4 separate regions of the Homo sapiens genome follow, and regions 1, 2 and 4 are each linked to region 3. Evidence: fine-mapped expression QTL. A gene starts in region 3. Each other region holds a variant in brackets. All regions are shown on one strand. Distances are between the middles of the regions. Region 1 overlaps PIP4K2B (phosphatidylinositol-5-phosphate 4-kinase type 2 beta). Region 2 overlaps CWC25 (CWC25 spliceosome associated protein). Region 3 holds the start of CWC25 (CWC25 spliceosome associated protein). Region 4 overlaps PIP4K2B (phosphatidylinositol-5-phosphate 4-kinase type 2 beta).

The links. PIP is the estimated chance that this variant, and not a neighbour inherited with it, causes the effect. A credible set is the group of variants that fine-mapping cannot tell apart.
Region 1: its variant is the best candidate, but not a certain one, in a credible set for the expression of CWC25 in whole blood (INTERVAL, PIP 0.63).
Region 2: its variant is the best candidate, but not a certain one, in a credible set for the expression of CWC25 in whole blood (TOPMed, PIP 0.57).
Region 4: its variant is the best candidate, but not a certain one, in a credible set for the expression of CWC25 in blood mononuclear cells (TOPMed, PIP 0.80).

Annotation. Positions count from the first base shown.
Region 1 is chr17:38,793,632-38,796,248 of GRCh38, reverse strand. All of the region lies in intron 1 of PIP4K2B (phosphatidylinositol-5-phosphate 4-kinase type 2 beta), which reads left to right. Among named protein-coding and RNA genes, the nearest start is that of PIP4K2B, 4.6 kb to the left of the region's middle. The variant T/C (reference allele first, on the strand shown) is at 1,199.
Region 2 is chr17:38,799,703-38,802,202 of GRCh38, reverse strand. CWC25 (CWC25 spliceosome associated protein) reads left to right here. Exons shown (of 10, transcript NM_017748.5): 10 at 1-1,762. The coding sequence ends at 111. Among named protein-coding and RNA genes, the nearest start is that of PIP4K2B, 1.4 kb to the right of the region's middle. The variant C/T (reference allele first, on the strand shown) is at 1,408.
Region 3 is chr17:38,823,725-38,826,341 of GRCh38, reverse strand. It overlaps CWC25 (CWC25 spliceosome associated protein), which reads left to right and starts at 1,021. Exons shown (of 10, transcript NM_017748.5): 1 at 1,021-1,176. The coding sequence starts at 1,159. It overlaps MIR4727 (microRNA 4727), which reads right to left and starts at 504; the gene lies at 450-504. RefSeq lists an enhancer at 1,682-2,313.
Region 4 is chr17:38,778,841-38,781,457 of GRCh38, reverse strand. PIP4K2B (phosphatidylinositol-5-phosphate 4-kinase type 2 beta) reads left to right here. Exons shown (of 10, transcript NM_003559.5): 4 at 854-1,006; 5 at 1,929-2,075. Among named protein-coding and RNA genes, the nearest start is that of PIP4K2B, 19 kb to the left of the region's middle. The variant GA/A (reference allele first, on the strand shown) is at 1,348.

The DNA of each region.
Region 1 (2,617 bases), 30 kb after region 3:
CAGTATCTGCATCCTTGTCAACACTTGTTATTGTCTTTTTAAAGTTATTAAAGCCATTCTGTTGGGTGTGAATTCGTATCTCATTGTGATTTTGTTTGTTTGTTTGTTTTTGTGATGGAGTCTCACTCCGTCACCCAGGCTGGAGTGCAGTGGTGCAATCTCGGCTCACCGCAACCTCCACCTCCCGGGTTCAAGCAATTCTCCTGCTTCAGCCTCCTCAGTAGCTGGGATTACAGATGCCTGCCACCACACGTGGCTAATTTTTTTATTTTAGTAGAGACAAGGTTTCACCATGTCGGCCAGGCTTGTCTCAAACTCCTGACCTCAGGTGATCCACCTGCCTCGGCCTCCCAAAGTGCTGGGATTACAGGCATGAGCCATCGCACCCGGCCTCATTGTGACTTTGATTGGCATTTCTGTGATAACTAATGATGTTGAGCATTTTTTCATGTACTTACTGGCCATTTGTACATATTCTTTTCTTTTTTTTTTTTTCTTGAGACAGAGTCTTGCTCTGTCGCCCAGGCTGGAGTTTAGTGCCACAATCTCAGTTCACTGTAACCTCCGCCTCCTTGGTTCAAGCGATTCTCCTGCCTCAGCCTCCCAAGTACCTCGGATTACAGGTGCCTGCCACCACACCCAGCTAACTTTTGTATTCTTAGTAGATATGGAGTTTTACCATGTTGTCCAGGCTGATCTCAAACTCCTAACCTCAGGTGATCCACCTGCCTTGGCTTCCCAGAGTGCTGGGATTACAGGTGTGAGCCACTGTGCCTGGCCTGTACATTTTCTTTTTGTTGTTGTTGTAGAGACAGGGTCTCGCTTTGTTGCCGAGGCTGGTCCTGAACTCCTGGCCTCAAGTGGTCCTCCCGCCTTGGCCTCCCAAAGGACTGGGATTGCAGGCATGAGCCACATCCCCAGCCTTCATTGGTATCTTTTCTTTGGAGAATGTCTATTAAATTTTTTGCCCATTTACAAAGATCTTTTTGCCCATTATTAAATTGGGTTATCTTCTTATTATTGAGTTACAAGAATTCTTTTTATATTCTAGATACAGGTCCCTTATCAGATATATGATTTGCAAATATTTTATCCTATTCATTGAGTTGTCTTTTTCATTTTTCTTTTTTTTTTTTTTTTTTTTTTTTTGAGATGGAGTTTTGCTCTGTCGCCCTGGCTGGAGTGCAACGGTGTGATC[T/C]TGGCTCACTGCAACCTCTGCCTCCCGGGTTCAAGCGATTCTCCTGCCTCAGCCTCCTGAGTAACTGGGATTACAGGTGCCCGCCACCACACCAGGCTAATTTTTGTATTTTTAGTAGAGACAGGGTTTTGCCATGTTGGCCAGACTGGTCTCGAACTCCTGGCCTCAAGCAATCCCCCCGCCTCGGCCTCCCAAAGTGGTGGGATTACAGGCGTGAGCCACTGCACCTGGCCTGCCTTTTTCATTTTTCTTATGGTATCTTTTGAAGTTCAAGTTTTTAACTTTAATAAAGTCCAGTTTATCTTTTTTGTTGTTGTTGTGTGTGCTTTTGGTGTTATATCTAAGAAGACATTGCCTAACCCAAGGTCATGAAGATTTACTCCTTTGTTTTCTTCTAAAAGTTTTATAGTTCTAGCTCTTTTTTTTTTTTTTTTTTTTTTTAATGAATTGGGGTTTCTCTGTATTGCCCAGGATGTTCTCAAACTTCTGGCCTGAAGCAATCCTCCCAACTAGAGTTTTAGCTCTTTCTTTCTTCTTCTTCTTTTTTTTTTTTTAATTGTATTGTGGTCAGAACATTTAACATAAGATGTACTCTCATGACAAAATTTTAAGTGTACGATTATGTTATTGATGACCATGGGAACAGTGTCATAGTGCAGCTCTGTAGAGCGTATTCATCTCGCTTGAATGAAACTTTATGCCTACCAATTAACTCCCCATTTCCCCCGCCCCCAGCCCCTGGCAACCACCATTCTACTCTTTGTTTCTATGAATTGGACTGTTTTGAAACCTTATATAAGGAGAATCATGCAATATATGTTTTTCTGCGACTAGCTGATCTCAGCGTAAGGTGCTCAAGGTTCATCCATGTTGCACATAGCAGAATTTCCTTCTTTTATTAAGGCTGAATAGTATTCTGTTGTATATGTATACCACATTTTCTTTATCATCTGTTGATGGATTTGTTTTCACACCTTAGCTCTTGTGAATAGTGCTGGAGTATGTATAGTTTTAGTTCTTACATTTAAGTCTGTAATCCATTTTGAATTCACTTTTGGGTATGGTGTGAGGGACAGATTTATTCTTTAGTCTGCTCAATTTCTCTCCTACATTCCACCCCAGTTCTGTTCTGTCCATACATTTTCTTTCTTTCTTGTTTTTTTTTTTGTTTGTTTTTTTGAGGCAGGGTCTCGCGCTCTTGCACAGGCTGAAGTGCAGTGGCACAATCACGGCTCAATGAAGCCCCTACCTCCCCATGCTCAGGTGATTCTCCTGCCTTAGCCACCCGAGTAGCTGGGACTACAGGCACATGCCACCACACCCGACTAACACTTGTATTTTTTGAAGAGTCGGGGTTTTGCCATGTTGCCCAGGCTGGTCTCGAAATCCTGGGCTCAAGCGATTTGCCCACCTCGGTCT
Region 2 (2,500 bases), 24 kb after region 3:
ATGAAGCTGGAGAGTGCATCTACTTCCTCCCTGGAGGATCGGGTGAAGCGGAATATCTACTCTTTACAGAGAACTTCGGTAGCTCTGGAGAAGAACTTTATGAAAAGATGAAAACTGTCCCCTCTCTTATTGGTTTTCCTGCATTTTCCAGGGAAGCTGCTGACCCCTTAATTCTCTTTATAAGAGTTCAAATGACTTCTTTCACAGATGTCAAACCACCAGTGTTCAAAGTGACCCTGCTTCATTGAGTCCTGAAACAGCTCACTTCCTTTGAGAGCTAGTGTGACTTGCTTTGTGGGACACTCAGTAACTTTGGGTTTTGACTCTTTAACGGGTGGGCACTGGACCATCTCGGTGGGAGTGCTTGTGCCACTCTGGAAGGCTGTTCCCTGGGGTTGTGATGTTTATCATGCCACTTCCTTCTTACCTGTGCCAACAGACCTATTTCACTGCCTCAGCGTACACCAGACCCTTCAGAAACCTCTCTGGTGTCACCCAGATAGATTGTGCTTACTGAGACAAATGAACGTTTACTTGATTTAGAAGATAATGTGACAGAATGATGTCAGGTTAGGTCAAAGCCAAGGGAGTGACAGAATCTGGAAAATCAAACAATACAAAAAGCCCTAAATGAACTGTTAACTATTTGATCTTTGGATGTAAAATTGTAATGCGTATATGTACAAATGTACAATTTTTACATGCTTTTAAAAAAGGTTAGCTTTGTGAAAATACCTTGTTTGGTCAATGACTTTACTGGGTAATAGAACCACATTGAACCTTGATGGCAAGTAATACAATAAGGCAGGCCAGCTCGTTTTTCTCTCTGAATCTGGCTGGTTTAGGAGGAGCCTGGGTTTATCGACGAGATCTGGAGTATCTATTCTTTTCCACTGCTTGCAGTCTCCAATGTAGGCAGTGTAAAGGTATAGTAAAATGATTTTAGGAGTCAGAACCAAATTGCCAATATGCTCCATGGCTCCTAAAGGAAAATAAAATGGAAGTTTTTATTTTGCGGCTTCACTTCTTACCGTGTAGTAACCTTACTACAATTACAGATTTTCAGGAGTTGTTTGCTAGTCTCTTTCAGTCAGGTACTAAAAAAAAAACAAAAAACAGGCTGGGCGCGGTGGCTCACACCTGTAATCTCAGCACTTTGGGAGGCTGAGGTGGGCGGATCACGAGGTCAGGAGATCGAGACCATCCTGGCGAACACGGTGAAACCCCGTCTCTACTAAAAAAATACAAAAAATTAGCCGGGCGTGGTGGCGGGCGCCTGTAGTCCCAGCTACTCGGGAGGCTGAGGCAGGAGAATGGCGTGAACCCAGGAGGCGGAGCTTGCAGTGAGCCGAGATTGTGCCACCGCACTCCAGCCTGGGTGACAGAGCGAGATTCCGTCTCAAAAAA[C/T]AACAGCAACAAAACAAAACCCTCGAGGGGCCACTCTCCTGTCTTTACTCCTTTTCCCTTCTCTATTCTTTCACCAGAAGCCCTCATTTGACCAGTGAACTCCTAGGCCCTCTTGACCCGCACATTAGCTGGGCGATTTCCTTGTTCTGCTAATTCCTAATTCTGCTTAAAATGTATTTGGATTTCTGTTTTTGAACACTTATGATGCCAGGCACTGTAATGCTTGAAACCCGATCTTTCCCTAGAGAATGTAACATACGTTTTTATTCATTTAATCACTTCATTATGCCGGGGTTAATTATGTTTATTTTATAATTGGTAATAAAGGCCACATTTATTTTTGTAACTGTTTAAAGAGCGACCACCTGTGGAGTACCGTGTTTACGAATTTCCATGCAGAAAGAACAACGTTGACCTGTAATTTGTGTCGAATATATGGAGATCCCTCATCTGAGAATTATGTAACAAAGCGTGGGGCAGTTTACTCAAAGATTTTACGAAATGAGCCAGAGTAAGACGATTAGTGGGATAGGTGTCTGAAGGTGCTGGCGGCCTCTGAGCTCTGACCCTTTGCGGGGAGAACAGGCAGCAGGTGGGTGGGCGCGGGGCCCATTCATAAAAACCAGTGTTCCTGGCCTGCTTCTCTCATTGGCCCTGGGGGCAAGGGGCGTGCCCCGCGGGTGGAGCGCGCCCGGGGCCCAGCAGAGTGGGCAGATCCACGCTTAGGTGGAGCGAGGGGGCGTTCCTTGGCTTTCTAGGCTGGACTTTCTCTTCCCCTTGCTGCGTCCCTCCTCTCCCCCGGGGTGGGCATGGTACGTCCCGCCCTCCTCGCATTCCCGTCCCTCCTTCCCTTCCGGAGCGGTGGCATCGCCGCCATCTTGGCATTCGGGTTGCGGGAAAGAGCCAAACCCTGGCGTTGGGGGGCCCGGGCGGGGAGCCCCTCCCGCGGTCCACAGCGACGCCTGCCCAGCCCTCCTCCCCTTCCGGCTCCGGCACGGGGCCCCGAGGCGTTCGGAGGCCAGGCGGGTTTCTGTCAGGCCCGGGGAGGAGGGGCGGGCGGGGCGGCCGCTGCCTCCCCGGGACGGGCCGTACC
Region 3 (2,617 bases):
AATCCCAGCACTTTAGGAGGCCGAGGTAGGAGGATTGCTTGAGTCCAGGAGTTTGAGACAAGCCTGGGTAAGATGGCAAAACCCTGTTGCTACAAAAATAAAAATAGCCAGGCGCGGTGGCTTATGTCTGTAATCCCAACACTTTGGGAGGCTGAGGCGGGGAGATCACTTGAGGTCGAAATTCGAGACAAGCCTGAGCAACATGGTGAAACCCTGTCTCTACAAAAAATACAAAAATTAGCCGGGCGGGTGGCGGGCGCCTGTAATCCCAGCGACTTGGGAGGCTGAGGCAGGAGAATTGCTGTCCGGGAGGCGGAGGTTGCAGTCAGCTTCGACCGCAGCCTGGGAGAGCAAAACTCCTTCTCAAAAAACAAAAACAAAGGGAGAAGAAGAAAAAGAAAAAGAAAAAAGAAAAACATGCCAAAAACACATAGTAACTGAAGGGAAAGGAATCTGCCAGCTTCCCACTATGGGAAAATCTGCCACTGTGGAAGCTGGCAGATTTTAAAAGTTTGGCAAACGGAAGCTGATGGAATTTCGATTTGATGGTTTCTATTTAGCTTCGTAAAATAGGCCTGGCATAAGGGGATTTGCTGTGAGTCAAGGTCTGAGGAAAGCGCCAGTTTGCAAAGCCGTTTTGGAAAACTGGAGCGTGGGGGTGTGTGCAGGGTGAGGGGAGGAGGCCTAGTCTGGTCCACCTTAGGTCTAGCAGAGACTACGTGGAGCTTTGAGCCGAATGCCCTGGTGAGCTGCCATGGCAACACAGCCGTGGGCACAGGCCCACGGCAACCCATCACTGAACAGAGTTGTGGCGTTTCAACAGAGAGTCTGGGACATCAGGCAACGTGGCGACCCGAAGCAGCCAAAATGAGACCTCGACAGCAAAGGCCTCGACAGCGGAGCCCGGACCTTTGCAAAATCTGCAAGTAACGCCAACGTCACAAAGCGCGACCGAGCCCTGTACGTCATCGTTCCGCGACGCCGACGCGGTGAGATGACGCCCTCCCGGAAGTGACCTCTAGAGCGGTGGTGAAACTGGCAGTTGACGGCTCCTGGGACTAGATCCCGCGAGGTAGCCCCCGAACTATTTCTCTACGTTTTCTCTTGATCCTCCCGAAATCTTCCAGATCCGCGTAGTGAGGAATCGTCTCCACCGTCATGGGGGGCGGAGACCTGGTGAGTGGAGGGAGGCCTGGGCGGGGGAGGACTGAGGCCGGGACGGAAATTGGCAGGGGGTGGGGGTAGAGGAAGGAGTGGATAACCATGGCAACGCAGCTTTGCTTTCGCCGGGAGGAGGCCGTTGCCCTGAAGAGGGGATGGATCCTTAGGGCAATGGAGGGGTGGGACTGAGATTTGGGAAAGTCCGAGGTGTGTCGCGAACAGTGACAGGTGGTGTTTGCGTGTTTGTTGACTGCGGCTCTACCGGCTGTAAATTCTGGGAAGACCGGGGAGGGGGCGGATGGAGCCATGGCTAGGAAAGGAGGTAGATATGGAGGACGTGTCACCACACTTTGTTTTGTATATCTTGTCTTGCCACACACCTCTCTTCCTTGGGTGAGAGTTCAGAGTCATGTCCTGGACTGAAGTAGGGGTGGTTTGTGCCCCATTCTCCCTACCCTAAGCCATGCCCTGGGGTCGTTTTTTATTTTTTATTTTTTTGAGACGGAGTTTCTTGTTGCCCAGGCTGGAGTGCCATGGCGCGATCTCGGCTGACCGCAACCTTTCCCTCCTGGGTTCAAGCGATTCTCCTGCCTCAGCCTCCCGAGTAGCTGGGATTACAGGCATGCGCCACCACACCCGGCTAATTTTGTATTTTTAGTAGAGACAGGGTTTCTCCATGTTGGTCAGGCTGGTCTCGATCTGCCGACCTCAAGTGATCCGCCCGCCTCGGCCTCCCAGAGTGCTAGGATTACAAGGGTTAGCCACAGCGCCCGGCCCTGGGGTCCTTTTTAAGCCTGAAGGGATCTTCCTGTCCATCTTTCTGACTTCCACACCTCCTTCAGTGCTGGATTCTGATCTGTAGTGGCAGAGCTTGCTTTTGAATTCATACCACTTAATATAAGTTATGTGGCAATGTCTCTTAAACTGAAACGTTCATTTGTAAAGCGCTAAGGCCCCAAATAGGGTAAATGTACCCACAAGAGCATGGGGCAAGGTTGGGAAAATGCTAGCCTCCGGAAAGTGGAGCTAATTGAACCAGCAAGTAGATCAGCTTAGCCGCCTGCCCAGTAAACCTATTAGTTTGTCATGTGTTCTCAATCACAGTGAGTGCCAGGACTCCATCTAGTTTCATCCAATTTAGTGTATTCTTCACATAACTGCATTTAAGGACAGGAAAGCTCTAATCCAGGGTTTCTCAACATTAGCGCTCTTGACAGTTTGGCCTAGATAATTCTTTGGGGGTGTGTGGTAGTGGTGGTAGTTGGGCTGTCCTGTGCATTGTAGAATGTTTAGCAGCATCACTGGCCTCTAGCCACTAGACTGGAGCTATCCACTAACACCCGTCTCCACCAGTTGTGACAGCCAAAAATGACTCCAGAAGATTTTCTCCCTGGGGAGCAAAATAATCTATGCTTGAGGCAGGGAGGACAAGATGGGAAGGGTTAGAGGGAGAAAG
Region 4 (2,617 bases), 45 kb after region 3:
CATGTATGTTTTCTTGGGAACAGGGACACTTGGGATCTCCCCTCACCGTTGCTTCCCAGAGGTCCCTTGGCATCTGCTTGGTGAACATATCCCTTTGGTTGACTCACGCCTTCCCACACCCTCCCTCTTAAGGCTTCTACTGCTCTCTGATCCTAATGGGAGTAGGACCTTGAGGAGGAGCAGGGATACAGCCAGGAAAGCTCCCCAAAACTGCCTCCCAGCCTTGCATAGACAAGCAGGAGGTTGAGGCAAGGGGAAAGGTGTCAGGCTCAGAGATGAGGATCAGCTTCCTGCTTTGGGGAAGGTTTTTCAGCATTAGGGTAGATCCAGGGACAAGAGACGAATGGGCATTGCTTCTTTGTGCTAGACCCCTTGAAGACAGTATTTTCTAAGCTTCATCTTTGCTACCCCCAAGAGACTGGGAGAATCAGCTCAGTCTGCATCTTTGTGTTCCTGATGAGGAAATGCAGGGGTAGAGAAGTTAAATGGCTCACCCAAGGTCATAGTGCGTGTGAGAGTCCAGATTAGACTCAGCCCCCTCCATCAGAGGCAGAATTTTAGTTGGTAGGATAGCTATCTGGGATCAGGATGGAAACTTTCACAGTCAGTCCTCTTCCCATCCTAGACTGGGATGAAGAGCAGGTGGTAAGGAACAATTCTTGTCACTTTGGAGGAAGACTTAGGGAGGGATGTGAACACCCTGTGAGAAAAGGGGAGGGTAAACTCCCATCTGGGAGTCCCTCTATCTCAGTGTTGTTGGCTTTCAAGCAGTCCAGCCCCTGAGGGAAGACTCAGCGAAAGTCAGAATTCTGTTCCCCTGCCAAGCCCAGCCTTCTTTTGTCTCGATTATCAGAATTCAGTGACGCGCAGCGCCCCCATCAACAGTGACAGCCAGGGTCGGTGTGGCACGCGTTTCCTCACCACCTACGACCGGCGCTTTGTCATCAAGACTGTGTCCAGCGAGGACGTGGCGGAGATGCACAACATCTTAAAGAAATACCACCAGGTATGGTGAGTCCCAAGCCTGGGCTGCAGAGGATGGGTTGGAAGAGGGAGAAGAGAGCCCTGGGGGAGCTTCTTAGGGAGGGGTTGGTCCTCTCTGGTAATGGCAGCTGCTTCTGATCACCAAGCAGTGGGACTCTCCTGCAACCGTATTTCTGTGAGCTGAAATGCCTACTTTAAAAAAGAAAAAAGGAGCCATGAAGGCTCATCGCTGACTGACTCCCAGTTGGAAAGTGTTCACGCACTGGCATCCGCCCCGTTTCTTCTGAAAGAGGCCCCCTCAGCTCGGCAGGCTTGTTTCTTTTCCCGTCCCATCTCTCCACTCATCTGGAACCTGTCCATGAG[GA/A]AGGCAGGGAGCCCCGTGGCACCATCTGTGTGTCTGTCCTCAGCCTACTTGGGTCTTCATTTCTGGGGCACCTGAGAAGGGCCGAAGGGAGCTTCTGGTCTTTCAGGAGTTATGGCAGAAACCCTGGGGCATGGCATGGATAAGAGCTTTGGATATGGAGCTGTTCTCTTCTCCCAGATGGCTGGATCCCTGGCCTGCCTCTGCATCCTGTCTCTTCCCTGCGGCATTCCCATATCAGGCTGGCAGAAGAGATGCAAGGTGTGGATCAGGGATTTTCCTGTGGTAGAATCCTACTTTAAACAAAATCTTAGGTGAGATACTAATAATATGAACCCACAGGGGCTCTGAGCCACCTGCTCAGCTTGCCTCTCCCTCTGCCATGCCAACAGGAGGCTGGAGGTGGCTGTTGCCCATTTTAAGCCTGAGAAACCCCTATTACTTCATAGAACCCAGCTGGAGAACTACTGGTCTAGAGGTTAGAATCCCAGGGAGCCAGGGAGCATTTTAGTCTGGGGTGAGCCCCATCCATCCCTGGCACTGCCTGTTCCTTAGTCCTCTCTCTTCTTCCTTTCCATTCTAGTTTATAGTGGAGTGTCATGGCAACACGCTTTTGCCACAGTTCCTGGGCATGTACCGCCTGACCGTGGATGGTGTGGAAACCTACATGGTGGTTACCAGGAACGTGTTCAGCCATCGGCTCACTGTGCATCGCAAGTATGACCTCAAGGTAAAGGGCTCTGTGTTTGCCGGAGCTGTGCCTCCCCTCTATCTGAGCCCCGAAGGGGCCACTACTCCAACTTCCATGTAATTGGGAAGCTGGAGCCTATGTGTTGGCATGGACAGGGAACTCTGGAGTGGATATGCCTGATTCTTGTGGACCAAAGGCAGTTTGAAGTCCAGGTGACAGTAACAGGAGATTATTTAAGCCCTAAATGTGCCATATTTATGCAGCAGTTGATGTTCCTGTCTGTGGAATGTGCACAGTGAGGGAGGCCGTGCTGACGCATGCACTTTAGCATCCATCAGGCCCCCATGGACTGCCAGCACAAGTGCATCTCTAGACTCTGAGAAGGACACACTTGTGGCTGTGAACTAGGGTGCTCCGTGTTCTTGAACCTGGCTTCTGACTTCTGTCACCTTATGCCGCCATCCCTTCCCTCTGTGCTGCAACTGGGCTGGTTTCCTCTGTGTTCCTGCAGTGCCTGTGCTCCTCTTCCCAGGATTTCACATCTGCTGTCTGGAATAGTCTCCTTCTCTCTCTCCACCCAC